3 linked regions of the Homo sapiens genome follow. The protein of the gene in region 1 purifies or fractionates together with the protein of each later gene. This does not show direct contact. Each region holds a gene or a part of one and is shown in the gene's direction. Other genes may lie near its edges.

Region 1 (7,018 bases):
CCCAGATATCCTCTCTGGGGCATAGGCTCACCTTACCGGGGGCTGAGGCCTGTGCATCCATAACTGAGCCACCTTTACAAATGAGCTCCCGTGTGGTCATCGCCTCTACGTGCTGCTCAGTGCTTCTGGCTCTAACCTCCCTTCCAGCCCCTCCTCCCTGCCTGCCCTCACTTACTCAAATGCTCTGTATTCCTAGACATATCTTGGCTGATGCTGTTCCCTCCAGATTCTCACTTTCCGCCTGTTGAAATCCTACCCTTTATTCCCCACCAGCCCAGCTCCTCCAAGATGACATACTCCATATGGCAGCGTTTTTCAAACTTGAGTCATTCACATTCATTGTCTTTCCCGTTCTCAAGTCCTGCTTGTATAATTTTTGACTTTTTTTATTTAAAGAATCTTTTTTTTTTTTTTTTTTTTGAGACGGAGTCTCGCCCTGTCACCCAGGCTGGAGTGCAATGGGGCGATTTCGGCTCACTGCAACCTCTGCCTCATGGGTTCAAGCGATTCTCCTGCCTCAGCCTCCCAAGTAGCTGGGATTATAGGCACACACCACCATGCCCGGCTAATTTTTTGTATCTTTAGTAGAGATGGGGTTTCACCATGTTGGCCAGACTGGTTTCGAACTCCTGACTTCGTGATCTGCCCGCCTCGGCCTCCCAAAGTGCTGGGATTACAGGCGTGAGCCACTGCACCCGGCCAAGAATCTCATTCTTTAAAAATAAAATTAAGCTCATTTAAAGCGGGACACAGTAGCACGTCCCGTGTAGTCCCAGCTATTCGGGAGGCTGAAGTGGCTTGCTTGAGCCCAGCCGGGGTGATATAGCAAAACTCTATCTCTTTAAAACATAAAATAAAATAGGCCGGGCACGTTGGCTCACGCCTGTAATTCCAGCACTTTAGGAGGCCAAGGCGGATGGATCATGAGGTCAGGAGTTCAAGACCAGCCTGGGCAAGATGGCGAAACCCCGTCTCTGCTGAAAATAAAAAAAATTAGCTGGGTGCGGTGGCAGGCGCCTGTAATCCCACGTAGTCGGGAGGCTGAGGCAGGAGAATCGCTTGAACTCAGAGGGCGGAGGTTGCAGTGAGCCAAGTTTGTGCCACTGCACTCCACCCTGGGTGACAGAGTGAGAATCCATCTCAATAAATAAATAAAATAAACTCATTTTATTTACTTTTCATTTATTATTATTATTATTTTGAGACGGAGTCTCACCCTGTCACCCAGGCTGGAGTGCAATGGCATGGTCTCGGCTCCCTGCAACCTCCACGTCCCGGGTTCAAGCGATTCTTCTGCCTCAGCCTCTTGAGTAGCTGGGACTACAGGCGCCTGCCACCGCACCCGGCTATTTTTGTATTTTCGGTAGAGACGGGGTTTCACTATGTTGGCCAGGCTGCTCTTGAACTCCTGACCACAAGTGATCCGCCCACCTCAGCCTCCTAAAGTGTTGGGATTACAGGCGTGAGCCACTGCGCCCGGCCTATTAGTAATATTTTTTGAGACGGAGTCTCACTCACTCTTTCTCACAGACCGGAGTGCAGTGGCGCGATCTCGGCTCACTGCAACTTCCGCCTCCTGGGTTCAAGGAATTCTCCTGCCTCAGTTTCCCACCACGTCTGGCTAATTTTTTTGTATTTTTAATAGAGACGGGGTTTCCCCATGTTGGTCAGGCTGGTCTCAAAATCCTGACCTCAAGTGATCCGCCTGCCTCAGCCTCCCGAAGTGCTGGGATTACAGGCGTGAGCCACCGTGCTTGGCCTCATTTTTTTAGTAAAAAAATTTCCCCTGAAAAAAGCATCTGCAAGTATAAACTCATTTTAGACTTGAACACCACCCAATAAGAACAGTAGCACACAGTATACATAAAAGCTGGTGATAGGAATAAATCCAATCAAAACCAAAGCAATGCTACTCAATCCTAGATCAGTACCATTGCGTTGGGGGAAGGTTCTGGCCTTGGGGCAGAATTTGTTTTCCTGGTATTGTCCTGGCTATCAGTACCGCCTTCAAACTTTGTCCTGGAGGGAATCAGAAGAGATGAAAAGAATACTTTTCTTTCTGGGTGACTGAGTGTTACTGCTTTGGCCATTGGGAGGCCATCTGGCTCTTTGGAGGTATTGCTTTCTACGTTCCCTAGCCAAAGAATTGCTCTTCCTGTCTGGATTGACTTCCGCTGGGCCCTTCTCAAGGTGCCGACTAGATTTTAACTTTGCGAAAAGGGCGTGAACATTGAATCTGTTCGCCCACCGCATTGTCCACTAGGTGTAGGGGAGCTTGAGCGCAGGAGCCGGGTCTTGTTTGCCTCATTCTCCCCTAGAGGTCTTGACTTGTATCTCAGATGTGGGCCGGCGCTCAGTAAAGGAGGCCGCTGCTCGCGGAGATGGAAGACGCCGCAGAAGTGGCCTCAGCGTTAGGTGAGAATGTACTCCTCCAGCGCGGTGTGCTTGGCACGTCGAATTGGTTCGGCATTCCTGGCTTTCATAGGTTTTACCCAGAACTTGGTGGCGTCAAGACCGTGCAGGTGAACCTGAGTGAAATCCGGTTTTTGTTTGTTTTTTCTTCATGCATTGGCTAGTTGTAGGTAAAACTCCACCATCCACGACGGTGGGCAGCCATTCTCCCCCGGAAACACCGGTGCTCACCCGCTCTTCCGCCCAAACTTCCGCGGCTGGCGCCACAGCCACCACCAGCACGTCCTCCACGGTCACCGTCACGGCCCCGGCCCCCGCCGCCACAGGAAGCCCAGTGAAAAAGCAGAGGCCGCTTTTACCGAAGGAGACTGCCCCGGCCGTGCAGCGGGTCGTGTGGAACTCATCAAGTAAGTTTCAAACGTCCTCCCAAAAGTGGCACATGCAGAAGATGCAGCGTCAGCAGCAGCAGCAGCAGCAGCAAAACCAGCAGCAGCAGCCTCAGTCTTCCCAGGGGACGAGATATCAGACCAGACAGGCTGTGAAAGGTACCGAGCCTCCCCTTCTGTTCTCCGTGGCGCCCGCTCCCATTTTGCCACATCGACAGGAGAAAGTCATTGCTCTTTTATTTTTTTTTTTTAGTTCTCGTTTGTTTCCGGGCCATTGTATCTTGAAGGCCTTGCACATTCCATTTGGCATTATTTTTAAAAATTGTTTTGCTACTTGCTTTTTTACTTTCAAAAAGTTTTTTTTGTTCATTTTATAAATGATACATGCATATATTCTCCTTAAAAAGGGGGCAGAAAGTTTTACATAAAAGTCTGTTATCCCGTTTACCTTCCATTTCATTCTCTTCCCTTCCACAGTGGCCAGTATCAACCGTTGTAAAAGCTTTTCTATGCATGTATGCATGTATATGTATATATACATATCTGTATGTATATATGTGCGCATCATGTATATGATGCCATAAAATTAGTCCTTTTTCCCCCCTTTTTTTCTTTTTTAAAACATAAAAATGGTACCATACTTGCTTTTTTCCCCCACCCATCAGCATGTTTTGGAGGTCCATCCACATCAGCACATACAGCCCTGCCTTGTTCTTTTGGACTGCTGCATAGTATTTCATAGTTTATTTAAAGCATTCCTCTACTAATGGGCATTTAGGTTGCTTTCAGTTTTTTTTCTACTGTGAGCAGTGCTGCAATGAATATCTTTGTATAAATTTCCTTGTGCACATGAGGGAACCTCTTGGAGTTATTTTGGAAAAAGTACAGTGCGAGAAGTTGATAGCGAAGGTTACCTTAGTAACTGGAGATTCGTCACACACACAAGATGAGCCAGCCTCAAGAACCACTTGCTGAAGTTGCAGAATCAGAACTCCCACCAGTCCTGCAGGAGGCTCCATCTGGAGCTGAAATTAGGCCAAACACAGTGCTGATCTGACTGGTTGGTACCAGTTTGCCTGGCTTTTGTGAGCATTGATGTAGATCTTTCTACCAGGAAACCTGCATCTAGATCCTCAAAGGCTGGGTTCTTCAACTGAAACTCATAGTGAATGCGCCCCTGTGAGGGGGGCTCATGAGCAGCAGAATGTGAGGTTGAAAGGTGGCCAGGTCTTGAATTGGCCCCCAGTGAAACCCTTCACAGATGGCGAGGGAGTGGGTCCTGAAGAATTGGCCAGGCAAAATTGAGAGTACAGTTGGATTAATCTTGCTATTTAAAAAGTTGGTGGGGCAAAGCCGAGTCTAGGATATTTGAGATTGGGATTGCGGCTTCCTGTCTTCTGTCTTCATATCTCATAAGCAGGAGACTTCCCCAGGGGAGTTTAATTGCTACCAAGAAGAGGGTCGGGCGTGGTGGCTCACACCTGTAATCCCAGCACTTTGGGAGGCCAAGGCAGGCAGATCACTTGAGGCCAGGAGTTCAAGACCAGCCCAGTCAACATGGTGAAACCCCATCTCTACTAAAATGGAAAAAAAAAAAAAAAGCAAAAAACTAGCCGGGCATGATGGCACATGCCCGTAACCCTGGCTACTCAGGAGGGAGGCATGAGAATCCCTTGAACCTCAGAGGTAGAGGTTGCAGTGAGCTAAGATTGCACCACTGCACTCCAGCCTGGGCGACAGAGTGAGACTGTCAAAAAAAAAAAAAAGAGCGCTGCCAAAAAGTGGCTCATTGCTTCAGATTGTCTTACGCCAAAGTAAAGCCTAGTTAAAGGGGTAAAGACCAATTTAAATTGGTAATATGCTACTGTAATAGGGGCAAGAGTCTAGCATAAGCTGAAATTAACTTTGATTTGTACAGGGGTGACTGGACATTTTAAAGGGAGAATGAGGGAGTAGGGATGGGAGCGAGTTGGGCCTCAGTAGAGTCAGGGAAGTTAAACATCTTGATTTGCTAACGGGCACTTCATGAAGTTGGGCCCCTACTCTCCCATAGACACTGGGATGCTGAGGTCCTGTCTTCAGGTGTTGGCTGGAACAAAACTGTCAGTTCTTTTGCCAGCATTGAGTTTTCCCAGGCAGTCGCTTTAAGAGGGGGTTGGGGTCATCCTAGCATGCACTCTTGAGCTCTTAGAAACTGTCAATGTTTGCTCAAGTCTTTCCAGGCCAAGGTTAGGGCCTAGTTGAGAAACCTGGATAGAGTTTGGTCAAGGGGAGCATCTTTGTCATTTAAAAGTAGAAAAGCTCTCAGGATGTCTATTAGGGGCTTTGCTTCTACACCACAGCTTTGTGCTGGGATGGGTCCTTCCCACGTGGGGTAATCAGGATGCTTTGCCTTCCTAGCTGTCCAGCAGAAGGAGATCACACAGAGCCCATCCACGTCCACCATCACCCTGGTGACCAGCACACAGTCATCGCCCCTGGTCACCAGCTCGGGGTCCATGAGCACCCTTGTGTCCTCAGTCAACGCTGACCTGCCCATCGCCACTGCCTCAGCTGATGTCGCCGCTGATATTGCCAAGTACACTAGCAAAGTGAGTGGATGGGAGAGCTACCGTGGAGATGGCAGACACCTGGCAGGATGCCAGAATCTTGGTCTCCCGAGGGGAAGCGTGAGCGTCTTAACCTTGCAGTCTTTAGGGAGTGAAGACCCTTTTTTTTAAAAACAGAATCTCCAAGACCACGTTCTTTAATTTGGGTCTAACAGAGAAATGTAGAATGGACTGAATCTTACTCCAAGTGGGCTTAGATTCTAAAGTCAGTTCATAAAGTGCAAATGACATAATCAGAATTACCTTCGAGAATTCAAGTCACTCATTAAGGCACTGGAACACATGACTGATCCTTCAGTGAACAGCTGACCAGGGGTTTGGTTTGCATTTAGAGCTTTGCATGTGGAGCAGAAGTGACAGAGACTTAAACATGAGACTGGCAAGGTGAGATGCCCACACTTTGATTTTTCCAGGAATCAAGATGGATGGGGAGGGGGACCAAGGGGACTCCCTCTCCCCTGTCTCCTGCCCTCTGGGGCACAGTCCCCATTAAGTGGCATGGTGGGCAGGATTGCCTGTTGTTGGTGAACTCATGGGAACTGTCTCAGCACAGGCCCCTTCTTTTTTTCTCTTAAGTTGCCAAGTGCTTTTTTTTTTTTTTGAGATGGAGTCTCACTCTGTTCCCCAGGCTGGAGTGCAGTGACACAATCTCGTCTCACTGCAACCTCCGCCTCCTGGGTTCAAGCAATTCTCCTGCCTCAGCCTCCCAAGTAGCTGGGACTACAGGCACGCGCCACCATGCCTGGCTAATCTTTGTATTTTTTTAGTAGAGATGGGGTTTCGCCATGTCGACCAGGCTGGTCTCAAACTCCTGACCTCGGGTGATCCACCCACCTCGGCCTCTCAAAGTGCTGGGATTACAGGTGTGAGCCACCAGGCCCGGCCTGCCAAGTGCTTTTATGGTCACTGTTGAATTCAGGTAGATACCATCTGCAGTTCTCAGCGTCATGTGAGAGTGCGCTGGACTGATGTGCTGTGTATCTTGTCATTAGACCACGGTGGTAATAATAACCACCAGAATGTCAGGTCCACAAAGGCAGGAATTTTTGTCTGTTTTGCTCACTGCCAAGGCCTAGAACAATGCCTGGCATGTAGTAAGTGCTTGACCCATAGTTGGGCTTTGTTTTTATTGGCTTCAATTATTATCAATAACTTAATAATAGCTATTGATTTATAATCTACTGAGATTAGTTAGTAAATTACTAAGTAGTTAATAATTTATTCTTTACTGATGAGTAGATTACTAATACTGATGAGTAAACAGTTCTAGTTTTTAGAATGGATGAAAATAATTGAGGATGGTTGTTTCTAGAATTCTTTCTTTTTAAAAAATGCAAACAGGGTCTCATTTTGTTGCCCAGGCTGGTCTCAAACTCCTGGCCTCAAGTGATCTTCCTGCCTAGTCCTCCCAAAGTGTTGGGATTACAGGTGTGAGCCACCACACCCAGCCTGTTTCTAAAATTCTTATAGTCTTAATAATAAAGAGTTAGCTTTATTATATTGAGTTAAGGGAAGAGGAATCTTTTAAAATTCTGAGTGGTGAGAGAAATATATATGAATTTTTTTTTTTACACAAATGAGTTTTCATTGGTCATGTTTCTTTTTATTTCT
Region 2 (7,972 bases), on another chromosome or scaffold:
GACCTCTTATGAACAGAGTTTTTCAGGTTCACACAAAACAGAGGTGTAAGGAGAGGAATTATAGAGCAAATGCTAAAAACTCCATGAACAACCCACTCTGAGTGTTGTTCTAGGTTCTTCTGTACCATGGGATGAAAACAGAACTCTAAGGTAACTGGCTAGAGAGGCTGCCCTCCTGGGTGCATTAATTAGGAGATTATGCCACCCTTAGTCTCCCTGGGCCAGTCATGCTAGTGGTTTATTTATAATTTATCTGGGAGGGTAGCACGGGGCTAGAGGAGGGAGGGGAAGCGTAGAAGCATAAGGACTACAAAGCAACACACCAGCACACACCTCCGAGCCCTTTCTGGAACTCAAGAAGAGAGGAAGGGATTTTAACTTTCTCCTTGTTGTGGTGTTAGGGAGAGGTGGGGAGCAAGAGCAGCAAAGGAAGAAGTGGGTAGAACCTACAGGAATAGGGACACAGGGTGAGTAGTGGACAAAGGATATATGGATAAATAAAATGTGGATATTTTTAGTCACAGGCAGGAGGCTGTGACTACCCAAACGCTCTCTTACTGGTTTATATGGACAGATCACTGTGGAAATGAGAGTATGGGTATGGGCAGATGGAGATATTGCAGAAGGGAATTTGAGGCCCAGAGACAGGCTGGATCCCCTGGAGAAATGAGGGTAGAAGAGCGCACAATAGGCATCTGGCAGCCCTCTGTAGGAAGGAGAAACTTCCCTGAAAGGAGGTGTCCCCACATCATGGTATCTGAAAAGAGCTGCCTCCTCACCCCCCATTGTGGAACACAAGTTTCATTCTTAGTACTCAGAGTAAGTATGGGAGAGGGCTTGGGTAAGTAAATGGGGCCCAGTCTTGATGTCGAGAGCATTTAACGAGGGAAACTGGAAGCCTTGCAGAACGGGGGAGAATGGCCCGCTTGCCACAATGAGTGCAGCAAGAGGGTGGGCCAGGGAGCTGAAGGGAAGGTTGGAAAAAGAAAACACCTACTTCAAAGGTGACAGGGAGCTTTTGACAGGACCTGATGTCTTTGATGCCAAAAACTCCAGTCCTAAGATGAGGAGAGTTAAATGTGGAATGCTAGTGGGTCTACAGAGTCAGCCAGGAGCTAGCGGAAGACTTGTCTGCATCCCTGGTGCTCTGCTCAGGAGCAGGGGGATTGTAATTCCCTGAGGCAAGCTCTTGCCTTCCCTGAACTCATTTCTTTGTACCAGTTCTCCAGTCCCTTGGATCCTAGAGAAGGGGAGAGCCATCTGGCCAGGCCTTCCTCTAGGAAAATGAGATGAGAAGGGTAATGCAGAGATGGCATGAGGTTCATCCCACTCACTACTGGTTAGTAAAGGGCCCTTTCTACAAGGAAGTCCAAGTTTCTTTTCAACTCGTCCCACTTCCATAGGTCTTGGACCCATGCAAAAAAGGTACATGAGCAGAGGGAGACATTATCCTTGGCCTGGGGTTAGGGCAGCAAGGCAGTGGTGCTGGGACATTGGTTTTCACTCAGGTCCTGAATCTCTGGGAGTCAGGAAAAGGGAAAAGTGACAGGCTGATGGGTTAGGTTTTCTGAGGGCCAAAGGGTTTTAAGATTGGGCTCTTTCCTGGCCAGGCGCAGTGGCTCACGCCTGTAATCCCAGCACTTTGGGAGGCCGAGGCGGGCGGATCACCTGAGTTTGGGCGTTCGAGACCAGCCTGACCAATATGGAGAAACCCCGTCTCTACTAAAAATACAAAATTAGCCGGGCATGGTGGCACATGCCTGTAATCCCAGCTACCCGGGAGGCTGAGGCAGGAAAATCACTTGAACCTGGGAGGCTGAGGTTGCAGTGAGCCGAGATCGCGCCATGGCACTCCAGCCTGGGCAACAAGAGCGAAACTCCGTCTCAAAAAAAAAAAAAAAAAAAAAAATTAGGCTCTTTCCTGAGGTGGGAAGATCACTTGAGTCCAGAAGTTCAAGATCAGCCTGGCAACATAGTGAAACCCCGTCTCTACAATAAATTTAAAAATTAGCTGGGTGTGGTGGTGTATGCCCGTGGTTCCAGCTACAGGTGGGAGGCTGAGGTGGGATGATCACTTGAGCCCAGGAGGTTGAGGTTGCAGTGAGCTGTGATTGCGCCACTGAGACCCTGTCTCTCAAAAAAACAAAAAACAAAACAAAAAAAATTCGGTTATTTCAGCTTCTAGGATTGGGTCCATAGGGTGGCTGGAGGGTATGCATAATAAGGGAAGGAGATGGTATACGCTGGAGGGCTACCTTGGGGCATAATTCAATGTAGAAGGTTTCCTGGACTGCTGACTTCTTTTTTTTTTTTTTTTTTTCTGAGGCAGAGTCTTGCTCTGTTGCCCAGGCTGTAGTGCAGTGGTGCAATCTCAGCTCCCTGCAACCTCTACCTCCTGGGTTCAAGCAATTCTCCTGCCTCAGCCCTTGAGTAGCTAGGATTACAGGCACGTGCCACCATGTCAGGCTAATTTTTGTATGTTTAGTAGAGACGGGGTTTCACCATTTTGGCCAGGCTGGTCTTGAACTCCTGACCTTGTGATCCACCTGCCTTGGCCTCCCAAAGTGCTGGGATTACAGGCATGAGCCACCATGCCCCGCTGGAATATTGACTTCTATACAGGCAGGGGAAGATGGGGAACATTATACAACTAAAGATTTTTTTTTTTTTGAGGTGGAGAATGTGGCCCCAACAAGATGAGGATGGAGGCCATTGGAGATACTATGAGACTTCAGGATATAAAATGGGAAAGTGCCTGAAAAATATGGGACATTGAGGATAAGCAGGATTTGGTGTTCAAGAATGAGGGAAACAATGCTGGTATATTGTGGAGTCTCTTAAGAAGGAAGGACATGAACATATTATAGGATTTCAGTATTAGGAATGCTGGATGGATGAACATTGCTTTCCAAGAAAAATCCCCTAGTAAGTAGGGAACAGATAGGAGATCATGTTGACTATGGTCTATACCCATAAATCCTTTAAGTATCATCTTCCAGCCTCTAGAAGGACCACGATAAATCTTATTGGGATATGTTCTCTCTTGGAACCAGTGGGATTTTATTTTCTGTAACAGGAAATTGGGAAACAGTGCTCAGCAGTTCTCCCTTGGCACCATTCTGTCGTGTATCATAGTTTGCTTGGTTGCTTATGCTTTTTGAAGGGAGGCCCCCTGGTCTTCCTTGATTCTCCATGGTGCGGAGCTCGGCCTTGCTAGGTACTCTGTCAACACAGGTTGAATGAACATGAGTAGTGGTGAGTAGCGGGAGGGCAGGCCTTCACTCTTGGTGTGTATAGAGCAGGAACCTGAGTTCACATCGTGATGGGATGTCCATCCCCAGGAATGGCCTGGGGGTGTTGGTGAAAGATCCCTGACCTGGGGATGTGGTGAGGGGGAGGATTGCTAGAATGTTGAGAGATAGTCTTTGGATGGGAGTTGGTAATTATTATGGGATGCTGTAGGGTGAATTAGACTTCATGTAAATGTTTCATCTGTCAGCTTGGTATTTTGGTTGGTTGGTGTTCCTCAAAACTTAGGAGCTGGAGGTAAGCATCTGGAAAATACCTAGATTTTGGTGGGACTGGGTGGGGCCCTAGGTGGGCTCCCAGCCCCCGAGTGTCTGGAAATGATGGTATGAGGGAAGCTGGGGTCCCAGACATCAGGAGGCTTTTTGCCAGGATACTACTTTGGCCCAGAAAGGGATTAAGGTGTGTGCAAGTGGGGGCGGGGACAAGGAAGCGTGGGTAGCCTGCCTGGCCCTCCCTGCTCTGGGTGTTAGAATAGACTGACAGCGCCTGGAGATGGGGGTGGGAAGAATATGAATATTATGGGATGCCTGGCTCGAAGGGTATAGGGGTGGTAGAGTGGAGATGAAGCATTATGGGATGTGACACTGGGTTGTGTTGGGAGTATTATGGTATGTTTGGTTGACCACGGGCTCCTTGCAATTATTATGGGATGTCAGGATGTGGGTAGGAGAGTAAAATTATTATGGGATAGCTTTCCAGTGTTAGAGGAAAAGAGATTAGATGTCCATCTGTGGGGCGACAGTAGGGCTGTTGATCATTATGGGTTATCTTTTTGATAGAGGAGGGGTACTTACTATAGGCTGTGGAGCTAGAAGAGGGAAGGCTGGGGGTGATGTGAGCCTCTAGACCCTGGCCTGCAGGGACTGAGGGCAGCTCTAGGGGGTTAGTTATTATGGGATGTCAGTATAGAAAGTGGGAGACTGATTATTACGGGATGTGTGTGGGAGGAGGCCGAGTGTCCGTTGTTGTAGTATGGGGGGGGGTGAGTTTCTGACTATTATGGGATATCAAACTGGGGGTGGATGAAGGATGGTTATTATGGGATGTCTGTGGGGGATGGGGCTGAATATTATGGGATATGAGGCATAAGTGCTGCGAGGGGTGCTTATTATGGGATGGCCATGGGGAGGGAGGGGTGATGAATTATTATGGGATGTTAGCATTAGGTCCAAGAGTGAAGAAGAAGTTGGCAAAGGATGTCTATTATGGGATGTCTAAGAGGGTTAGTTGCAAAAGGTCTGCAATATTTTGAGATGTCAGCAGTCTCTGGCATATGTGTATGAAATGTGGGGGGGCAGGGTGTGTGTGTGTTGTGTGTGTGTGTGTGTGTGTGTGTGTGTGTGTGTGTGTGTGTGTTGGGGGGGGGGGTGTCCGTGTGTATTATGGGATGGCCAGGAGGTGGGCGGTTGCCCAGGTGACGCGCGCGCGCCCGCTGCGAAGGGGGCGTGGCCAGTGGTTGCCTGAGCGACGAGGGGGCGGGGGTTGCCCGGGAGACCTGGGGAGGAGGGTGGCGGTAGTGGAAGGGGGGGGTTGGAGTTGGTTGAGGTTATTATGGGCTGTCCGTGGGGGGGCGGGGCCTGTGCGGTGGGATTTCCCGGCCGGTGTTTCAGGCCCTTTAAGAGGCGACGCTGGAGCCGGAGCCATTTTCCCCCCTTCGGCCGCGGCGAGGAGGAGCCGGAGCGGGAGTGACACCGAGCCGGACCCAGCGCGACCTGCGGCGGCTCCGGGGTGAGGAGAGCGCGGGGTTCCCAAAGAGACGCCCCTCACGGCCCTACCAGCCCCGAGGGTCATCCCGTCACCCGCCCCTTCCTCAGGCGTCTCCGGACCCGCGGACCGCCCCTTGCCCAGAGGAGCCGACCCTTCCTTTCCTGGCCCTGCAGGGCGCCCGGCCTCCTCCCCAGCCCCCGCCCTAACCCTGCCGGAGTCTTGCTCCCCGCGACCCCCCGCCTCCGGCTTGGTCTCCCACAATGCCCGGCGCCCACCCCCTCGCCCTTTGATCACTTGCCCCCCGGGACACGTGGCCCGGCCCCCTTCCCGGTGGGACGCTTTCGCCCCCCGCGTCCCTGCCTCCGGCCCCCCGCAGCGCCCGAGCCTCCACGCCCCCTCGTCCCCGCAGCTCTTGAGGAGAACCTGAGTTGTCCCAGAGGACAGCCTTTGGAGAGCTGCCCTGTCTGGGGACTGGCCCCTCCCCGGGCGCAGGGAGGCGCCCCCCCACCCCCAAGTGACCTTGTGTCCCCGAGCGCCTCGCCGCCTGCGGCCTCCCCTGGCCCCCCCGCGCCGCTGCCACTCGGACCCCCTCCCCCGTCACACCCCGCTCGGTCCAGCCCCGCGTCTCCCCTCCCCGCGCTTGCACCAGCCTGCCCTCGGAGGCGTCGCTCCCTCGCTCCGTGGGGGCGCCTGCCGGGGAGCCGGCTTCCGGGCTGCCCCCGAGGAGTGTGGAACTAAGTTCAGCCTGAGCGGTTCGGGTGCCCTGCTAGGGTGGCTGGGGTGGGGGGCGGAAAGAGCGGGTGGGTGTGGGGGAGGGGGACAGTGCGCGTCACTGACTGTTCTGTGTTTCTCCCCCCTCCCCCGCACAGTGACTCGGGCCAGTGTAGAGGTCCTCAGGCCGCCGGCAGGAGCAGCTGGGCCAATTCCCTGGCCGGGAGCGGAAGGGGATGGCGTCGGGCCTGGGCTCCCCGTCCCCCTGCTCGGCGGGCAGTGAGGAGGAGGATATGGATGCACTTTTGAACAACAGCCTGCCCCCACCCCACCCAGGTAACATCTTCCCCAAGGGCCCATGGCGGGAAGGAGACATCTGGGGCTCTCCCGAGTGACTCCTCTGGTGAGGCAGGGCTGTGTTGCTCCGCTGTCTCTGTGCAGAGCCGGAGGTGGAGGGTATCCGAAGGGAGTGGTTCCCTTCTGCGGAGCTCTGGTGTGAGGGGGGTGGAAGCCATGTGCCTCCTGGGCACGGAGATGCCAGCTTGCTGCACTCTGTCTTGAGGAATGCTCTGCAGTTCCCAGTTGAGGGAGCTCTCTGGGCTGGCAGGCATTACCTGGTATGTGGGTCCTCGGAGGAATGCAGGTAGCTGGGACCCCTGGAGGCTTGTGGTGGTGGTGGTGGAGGGGGGCGTTGAGGATTCTGTTTGAAAGACCAGCCGGGCATCTGTGCTAGTAGGATCCTGTGGTTGCTGCTGTGGAAAGGAAAGAGGGAGTGCTGGTTACACTCTATCTGATTATTTTTAGCTTCTGATCGGTTACCGGTTTTCTGTGCTGTCTGAACTGTGTGAAGTTTGAATCGCGCTCCTCAGCAGGATCTGGAGTGCTTAAAGCAGCCAGGCAGATTGCTGGAATGTTTTGAGTGGGGAAGTGATGGGGGCTCGGGGAGGATGTAATAGCCTAGTGAAGAGGGGCAAAAGAAGGGAGGGCACTCCTCCTCCTGGTGAGTGGACATAGTTTTGGCTTTTTTCCTAGTGGCTTCTGTCTCTATGAGGTAGCCTGCGGTTTAGGCTGGCAGTGTGAAGTGTCTGTGTAGGTGTGCTAGGGGTTACGCTATCTGTGTTTTGGGGTGGCTTCATGAACTGGCCAAACCCGTATGGTTGTAACCACCCTGTCTGATTGGGGGAACTGTTGTCTATCCTCAAATGATGGTTGATGTCATGCCCCTAAGCAGATGTCTTTCTCTTCTGTGTCCTTTTTCAGAGCCCCTAGCTGTGTCACCTACTCATCTCCTTGACCTTCATGTTTTCTAGTTTAATTTTTTTTTCTACATGTCATTTCTTCATTCCTTCTGCTTCTAGTTTTCTTCTCATTCTGGAGCCTGCTGATCCTGTTTTTGTTTCTCATCCAGCATCATTCACTTCTGCCTTCTCTCTTCTTAGCTTCAGTGGAAGTTGAGGTGGTCTGGGAGAGATGCTTTCACATTTGGCACTTTTTAAGTTGGAATTCTTCACTTCAACCTGAGGCCATTTAGGAGAGGGGTTAGTGTTGTCATGGAGTCTGGGCTGTTGGGATGAGAAACTTGGTTTCATCCTTGTGTAGAGTAGGGGGCAGATTTCCATGCCCTTGCCCAAGGTGAGGGCGGAGTTGTGGTGCTGGTAAGGGGACCCTGTCCTTCTGAGAGGGGCATGAGAAACAGTAGTGCTGCCTAAACATTCTGGGTTCCACGTCTTGGCCTCCCATTGGCCACTTGGGCTGGGGCTGCCTTTCATGTTGACCGGGAGCTGCGCAGGAGCTGTGAACTCTGTCCTGAGCTGTAGCATGACCCACTTTTTCCACTTGCCACACCCCATTCCTGTCCCTTTCCTAAATCTTCTCTATATCTCAGTAAGTTTGCGGTTTGCCATTTCAGCATATTATTTGCCTGAGAAGTTTGGGGGGCTCCATGTGCATGGAAGGATGTCCCCTTTGCCTCCATGGGTTGTCTTTGTCTCCACTTCCAGCTTTTATGGGGGTGGTGAGATGTAGCTGATGGGGGTTGGGGGTTGACTTGGGGATTGGTGGGGAAAAGTCCTTAAGAAAATGATTCTTTCTGGTGAAATCCAGGCTGATGTTGCATTCCCAAGGGGGAATGGGAGGGGCGTTCTTGTGCCTGGTCTTATTCTGGGCTGAGAAGCAGGGAGGCTGATGGTGCTTTGTCCAGCCTAATGTCTCATTCCCTAGTATCTGTCTAGCTCAGGAAGTGGGG
Region 3 (7,407 bases), on another chromosome or scaffold:
AAAGATGTGACACACTGGATGTTGTTTATAAAAGTGGCTGGTACATCAGGAGCAGTAAATAAGTGAAAGCTATCATTAATTATAATGATAAAACCTACCTTTCTGCAAAACAAAAATGTCTGAACTTCCGCTAAACTCCTTGCTACCTGAGAAATCATTCCCAAAGAATCTATGATTCCTTGATATTATGGAGAAAAACCTCAGGGTTTTTTGCAGATGTTTTCCCATAGAACTGTATTAGAAAAGATTCAACTATCTTTGGGGGTAGTGAAGTTTATTGTCAATTACAGAAATGCTCTGTCATGGACCAATTTATCCTATATTTTAAAGTGCAAAAAAGGTGATATATGAAGCATAGCCAAAATGTATTTCCTCTGCAAATAAAATATGCCAGTACAGATACACTGTTGTTTTTGTAAGATAATTTGAGGTTTATTTTATTCAAATGAACAAATATTGTTAAGAATCTACCCAAATCTAGCCGGGCGCAGTGGCTCATGCCTGTAATCCCAGCACTTTGGGAGGCTGAGGCGGGCGGATCACCTGAGGTCGGGAATTCGAGACCAGCCTGACCAACGTGGGGAAACCCCTTCTCTACTAAAAATACAAAAATTAGCCGTGTGTGGTGGCCAGTGTCTGTAGTCCCAGCTACACGGGAGGCTGAGGCAGGAGAATTGCTTGAACCTGGGAGGCAGAGGTTGCAGTGAGCCAAGATCATGCCACTGCACTCCAGCCTGGGCGACAGAGTGAGACTCCATAACAACAACAACAACAACAACAACAACAACAACAACAAAGAATCTACCCAAACCTGAGCCCCATGCTATGATGAATAAATGCAAAAGAAGCTGCAACTATGCTCCCATCCCATGAGATGATGCTGGAATGCTGGGATGATGAGACTGACACATATAAATCAACTAGTCCCTAAGAGGAGAAGCACAATTAAGTGCTAAACTGCATGGTGCAGCTCATAAAAGAGTTGCAGGAATTCAGGTGAGGAAGATTAAGGAGCCATAGGCTACTTAGGAAAGATGCACTCAGGAGAAGGGAGAAAGAATTTACCAGTTACTTTATGTATGACTTTGGTAAAGTTAGTTAGCCTCTCAGTGTTACTGTTTCCTCTTTTATGAAATTTGACACTTTAATGCATGTAAAATGCCTAGCACATTTTAAAGCAAGACAGGTTTTTGGTAAGTCTTAGAGAATGTGTAACATCTACCCAGAAAGAGAATTCCCAGATAGCAGGATAACCTGTGTCATGTAAAAGAAACAGGTATCCTTTTTAAGCCTTTTTAGATACAAAAAGGTGAACAAAAAATCCACAAGTAATAGTCCTACTATAATAAGTACAATATTCTGTGTTGAATAGCAACCACAGCTTTGCCTGTATGGCAAAATAACTCCCTGAGCACGTGAGCCTTGGTGCATGTTGACATTCCTAGAGAGTTCCTCCTTCCAAGCAAAGATTCTTTCTTTAAAAAAAAATAGGACATAAAGTATGCATATTTGCTTTTCCCTCTAAAATCCTTGCCCTTTACTGACCCTTCTCCTGAGCACTTGTCCGAAAGCAATCATAACCTGAGCTTTCCATCACCTACAAGGAATAGTTATAATCACAATCACTTCTCTAATGTAATTTTCTTCTAATACACAGAGAACATGAGATACATTACTTCTAATTTTAAATCACGTTCTCTATATATTCAAATATTCCTTATCACAGCTTTATACATGTTCGACAAGAAGAGAAGGAAGAGTTCCTTTAAAGAGTCTCAACGTTATTTGGGGGAAATTACATTCAGCAGAGTCCTGATTATACTTACATGATCCTAATTAGAGTTTTCCTAGCATTACTGGTAAGAGTGTTAATTACATTAATTACATAATGGCTTCTTTGACAAATAAAGCCATATATTCTAAGATTGGTCCAAGCCTGACACTCCTTTCTGCTTAAAAAAAAATAGGAGACATATTGGAATAATAGAAGTTTCCACTTTAGGCCGAATGAAATTATACCAGTTCAAAATAGAAGATGATTTCATGGCAATTAGAAACAGTCTTTGTGGAAAGTTCCAATATTCCTTTTTATTTACACCAAAAGTAATTCCAGCCATGCATCACAGGCTCCATCACTTGTAGAGAGAAATGCATTATATATTTCTGTAGACAGAAACGAAGTAAAGCCTGAAATGATTACCTTGACTTTTTCAGAAAGGAGAGAATTGGAAATACAGTGCTGGTAGTCCGAGGCTTTGATATGTAAACTCACCTAAATATGCTGGTCTTTTCAGAGTTCGTTTGTCATACAGTGTGACCACACAAACTTAAATTATTTGTAAAATAAAATTGTTTTCTCTGTGTTTTTCCTATCCTTTTAGAGCCTTTGAAACATATATAGAAATTCATTCTCCTGAGTAGGAAACTGTTACTATATAGAATAGAGCAGCCCTCTGGTTTGCCAGTGGCAGATAGGAAGGAGAGCAGAGTGACAACCCATATGCCCCTTACTTCTCTTCCGCAAGGAGCAAGTTGCAAGCAAGAGAAACTGTTTTCTGCTCATTTGCTCCTTTATTTAACATTTTAATAATCTATGGGATACTGTGTAAGGTAGTGTGCTAGGCACTCGATAAACAGAGGGAAACGAAACCATGATCATGTCCTCTTGCAGTTTACAGTCTCCTCAGATATCGTTTGTGGTATGTTTAGGCTTTAATTTTGTCTTTCTGTGCATTTGCCTAAGTATATTTCTGGTCTTGATATTGAAAGACAGATTCAAGCTGTAATACATCACAGCTGTTGGGCAGGAACTCACGGGAAGCCATGAGCAAGGTAGAAGGGGCTGCTATTAGAAACAACTTGAGGCACCCATAGATGCAACCAAACCTTAATCCAAGGTGTATTCATTTCATATTGCTTCTGTAACAAATTACCACAAATTTAATAGCTTAAAATGCACAAATTTATTTTCTTATAGTGCTGGAGTTTAGAGGTAATAACCTCAAGGTGTTGTCATTCCTTTGGAGGCTCTAGGATTGAATCTATTTCCTTACCTTTCAAGCTTCTAGAGGCTGCCTTTATTCCTACGATCCTGGCTCCTTCCTCCATCTTCAAAGCCAGCAACATAGCGATTTCCCTTTCCTCCCTCCCACACCTATTCTCCACCATTCCTTCCCTCTCTCTGTGCTTTCGTCCTCTTATCTTCTCTGACTGACCCTCCTGCCTCCTTCTTATAAGAAATTTGTAATTCCATAGGGCCCACCTGTATAATCCAGAATCATCTTCTCATCTCCAAATCTTTAACTTAATCATATCTGCGAAGTCCCTTTGGCCGCATAACTAAGACAGGTACATCTTTGAGGGCCATCAGGCTACTACCACACAAAGCAAATTAAGTAGAAAATAACGTTTGCCTCTTTTATACCTTGAGTCCACCAGCTGCATGTTGCCCTTTGCAAGTTTGTTTTCTACTTCAAGGCCATCTTAGTTGTCCATTTTAACTAGCCTTTCCTCACAAAATGGTGGTATGTGGCTCCCCCCACTGATATTTCTCTGAGGCCTTGTAGCTCTCTAAGACAGCACCAGTTTAACTCACAAGTCAACAAACTGGAACACTTCAACCAGAGACATTGACATCCCCCTCTAATGAACTCAGCTGATTGCTAAAGACAGATGCTTCGTTAGAGCCAAACATTCCTATCTTACATAACTAAATATGATAATAAATTAAGTTCTTGGGGCTGGAAATAGTTATAATTTCCTCTTTCTTGCAGTGAAAAGGCATGGAACATTTAGCAAACTGATCCTGGCTTAATTTCTACCGATACTATGCAGCACAAACTCTTATTTGATGCAGATTATAAATCGAAAATTAGCAATGAATACTATGCATCGCTTTAGTGGTAAGAGGCTGCTGAGTAGCTTTTTTTCCCCAGTAACCGTAGAGGCAAGAATTGATATTTTTATGTCACTTTTACTAAGAAGGGGGGAAACATTTTGCTATTAATCTTAAAGAGAAGTCTTTTGCTGCTAGTTACGTGGAGTAACAGGGAATAGATTTACCTTCCTGCCTCAAAAAAGTGAAGACCAGAAAAACATTTGTTTTCAGACACTGGAGAGCAGGCACTGTTACGGCTGTGATTTTACAACTGCTCCTACATGCTGGGAGCAGTCGCTAGATGCATCTCAAGGTGGGTCGTCCGCGCTTCCAGACTCAGCACAATCGACATTTATTTACGTAGGTAAAATTACTGTTGCTATGGGTAAATTCACAGAAATAAAGCCCAGAGAATCCGGTTGGCTGGCAGGGAGCGGCGGAACCAATCCCGGGCTCAGCAAGTTCTCGCGATACCGTGAGATCTCCAGTCCTGACGACACCGCCGCTGAAATGTTAGTGAGACTGTAGGGTGGGCGGTGCGAGCGGCGGTTAGCTCCCAGTTCGGCCTCTGAGGAAAACGGGCGTTCGCCTGCGGTTGGTCCGACTGTTAGCAACATGAGCGGCCTGGATGGGGTCAAGAGGACCACTCCCCTCCAAACCCACAGCATCATTATTTCTGACCAAGTCCCGAGCGACCAGGACGCACACCAGTACCTGAGGCTCCGCGACCAAAGCGAGGCGACACAGGTGATGGCGGAGCCGGGTGAGGGAGGCTCGGAGACCGTCGCGCTCCCGCCTCCACCGCCTTCAGAGGAGGGGGGCGTACCCCAGGATGCCGCGGGCCGTGGCGGTACTCCCCAGATCCGAGTTGTTGGGGGTCGCGGTCATGTGGCGATCAAAGCCGGGCAGGAAGAGGGCCAGCCTCCCGCCGAAGGCCTGGCAGCCGCTTCTGTGGTGATGGCAGCCGACCGCAGCCTGAAAAAGGGCGTTCAGGGTGGAGAGAAGGCCCTAGAAATCTGTGGCGCCCAGAGATCCGCGTCTGAGCTGACGGCGGGGGCGGAGGCTGAGGCGGAGGAGGTGAAGACAGGAAAGTGCGCCACCGTCTCAGCAGCCGTGGCTGAGAGGGAGAGCGCTGAGGTGGTGAAGGAAGGCCTGGCGGAGAAGGAGGTAATGGAGGAGCAGATGGAGGTAGAGGAGCAGCCGCCAGAAGGTGAAGAAATAGAAGTGGCGGAGGAGGATAGATTGGAGGAGGAGGCGAGGGAGGAAGAAGGGCCCTGGCCTTTGCATGAGGCTCTCCGCATGGACCCTCTGGAGGCCATCCAGCTGGAACTGGACACTGTGAATGCTCAGGCCGACAGGGCCTTCCAACAGCTGGAGCACAAGTTTGGGCGGATGCGTCGACACTACCTGGAGCGGAGGAACTACATCATTCAGAATATCCCGGGCTTCTGGATGACTGCTTTTCGAAACCACCCCCAGTTGTCCGCCATGATTAGGGGCCAAGATGCAGAGATGTTAAGGTACATAACCAATTTAGAGGTGAAGGAACTCAGACACCCTAGAACCGGTTGCAAGTTCAAGTTCTTCTTTAGAAGAAACCCCTACTTCAGAAACAAGCTGATTGTCAAGGAATATGAGGTAAGATCCTCCGGCCGAGTGGTGTCTCTTTCTACTCCAATTATATGGCGCAGGGGGCATGAACCCCAGTCCTTCATTCGCAGAAACCAAGACCTCATCTGCAGCTTCTTCACTTGGTTTTCAGACCACAGCCTTCCAGAGTCCGACAAAATTGCTGAGATTATTAAAGAGGATCTGTGGCCAAATCCACTGCAATACTACCTGTTGCGTGAAGGAGTCCGTAGAGCCCGACGTCGCCCGCTAAGGGAGCCTGTAGAGATCCCCAGGCCCTTTGGGTTCCAGTCTGGTTAACATTTGCCCTTGGGAATACTCCTGCACAAGGTCTCCTACCACCTTCTGCTGGACCTGTGCTTGGGCATCAGCAATGAGTATGCCTTCTATTGTGCTTTGTTTTTGCTGACTTTTCTGCACCCTGTTTCCTTTGGATATTCAGTTCTCTCAACCTCAAGATTGAGACGGTGGTGGGTATGCTTCTCCACTTCCATATGACCTTCATGCTGTTCTGGAATATCACATGCTACGAGGTCATCCTTCACACTACTTGTAAGCCAAGCAAATGATACTGTAGATTGTACTGCCTTTATCTGCACTGCTTGGACCCTGTTTATTCCCAGGGCCTCTGAACTGGTTGCTGTCACTTGGATTTCTAGCTTTGGGAGCCTGTTCCACCTACTCAGCTCTGCATTGAGCAGTATGGGCACATGCCCTGTGGACAGTTACTGGACGTTAATGAACTCAGAGGAGAAAAGCAGTGAGCCACTTGTTCTGTGTGATTTATGGTACTTCATTGCTCTTCCTTCACCTCTAGTCACTTTCTATTGCTACCTGCCCTACATTGGCTCCTGCCAAGGTCCCTCTCTCTCCCTGTTTTCCTTTTTTTTTTTTTTTTTTTTTTTTTTGAGACGGAGGACGGAGTCTTGCTCTGTCGCCCAGGTTGGAGTGCAGTGGCGCGATCTCGGCTCACTGCAACCTCCACCTCCCGGGTTCAAGCGATTCTCCTGCCTCAGCCTCCCGAGTAGCTGGGACTACAGGCGCGCGCCGCCACGCCCGGCTAATTTTTATATTTTTAGTAGAGACGGGGTTTCACCATGCTGGCCAGGCTGGTCTCGAACCCCGATCTCGTGATCCGCCCTCCTTAGCCTCCCAATCCTCTCTTAAAAAAGTGATAGCTCAGAAACATTTGTAAAAGCAAGGTTTTTATTTCATTTTGGCTCTGTCATTTTCAGAGGCAAAGAAGTTGGCCTGTAAAATAGAGTGCTAGAGCTCTTACGCCCCTCCCCTTCTTCCCAACTTCCTACTTCCTAGCCCTTTTATCAACTCCTAGAATAGTTAAAGAGAGACACATCTAGATGGGATGAAAGGTGCCCTAAGCAGGAGAAACTGAACAAAAGGCTAGAGGCATGGGCCAGGTAAAAATTGGGCCTAGAGTGAAGACTGTGCTGTCGTTAAGAGCTTTCGAGGAAGGAGTACTTACTCCCCAATGATGATGAATGGAAAAATACTTTTCAGGGAGAATTGAAGGGGTTAAAGTGTTAAATATGTTGCCTAGACAAGGGTTCTTTAAAGAAAGACAGCGCAACTTTGAATGCTTTCTTACTTGTTTTGTGACCTAATTTATGTGGAAGATTGTTATTTCATTAGGATTTAGTAAAATTTTTTTTTCTGATTCTAAACTTATTGTGAAAATTGAGCTGTACAGATATTCTTTTGATTTCAATTGGGAACATTTGGAAGAACAACAGTCTTACTTGCCTGTACAATATAGAGACATATGAATAGTCATAACAGTTTTCAACTTGTTCTTGTTTCTGTTAAACTATATTCCTAGAAACATAGTTTGAACAACTTGGTCTTTGTTAGGCTTGTCAAATTGCCTTCATGGAAAAATAATC

What was found. The genes of interacting proteins can lie anywhere in the genome.
Region 2: the proteins of ZMYND8 (region 1) and CHD4 purify together in Homo sapiens (affinity purification with mass spectrometry; 7 studies listed by BioGRID and IntAct, with this or other methods). This does not show direct contact.
Region 3: the proteins of ZMYND8 (region 1) and TSPYL1 purify together in Homo sapiens (affinity purification with mass spectrometry; 5 studies listed by BioGRID and IntAct, with this or other methods). This does not show direct contact.

What each region holds. Positions count from the first base shown.
Region 1 is NC_000020.11:47,234,697-47,241,714, reverse strand, and holds part of ZMYND8 (MYND-type zinc finger-containing chromatin reader ZMYND8), read left to right. Parts: intron 1-2,576; coding exon 2,577-2,957; intron 2,958-5,198; coding exon 5,199-5,389; intron 5,390-7,018. UniProt on the Homo sapiens protein: Chromatin reader that recognizes dual histone modifications such as histone H3.1 dimethylated at 'Lys-36' and histone H4 acetylated at 'Lys-16' (H3.1K36me2-H4K16ac) and histone H3 methylated at 'Lys-4' and histone H4 acetylated at 'Lys-14' (H3K4me1-H3K14ac).
Region 2 is NC_000012.12:6,604,365-6,612,336, reverse strand, and holds the start of CHD4 (chromodomain-helicase-DNA-binding protein 4), read left to right. Parts: upstream 1-4,957; 5' UTR 4,958-5,037; intron 5,038-5,885; 5' UTR 5,886-5,963; coding exon 5,964-6,063; intron 6,064-6,341; exon of another isoform or gene 6,342-6,451; intron 6,452-7,972. UniProt on the Homo sapiens protein: ATP-dependent chromatin-remodeling factor that binds and distorts nucleosomal DNA. Acts as a component of the histone deacetylase NuRD complex which participates in the remodeling of chromatin.
Region 3 is NC_000006.12:116,276,916-116,284,322, reverse strand, and holds the start of TSPYL1 (testis-specific Y-encoded-like protein 1), read left to right. Parts: upstream 1-4,392; 5' UTR 4,393-4,492; coding exon 4,493-5,806; 3' UTR 5,807-7,407.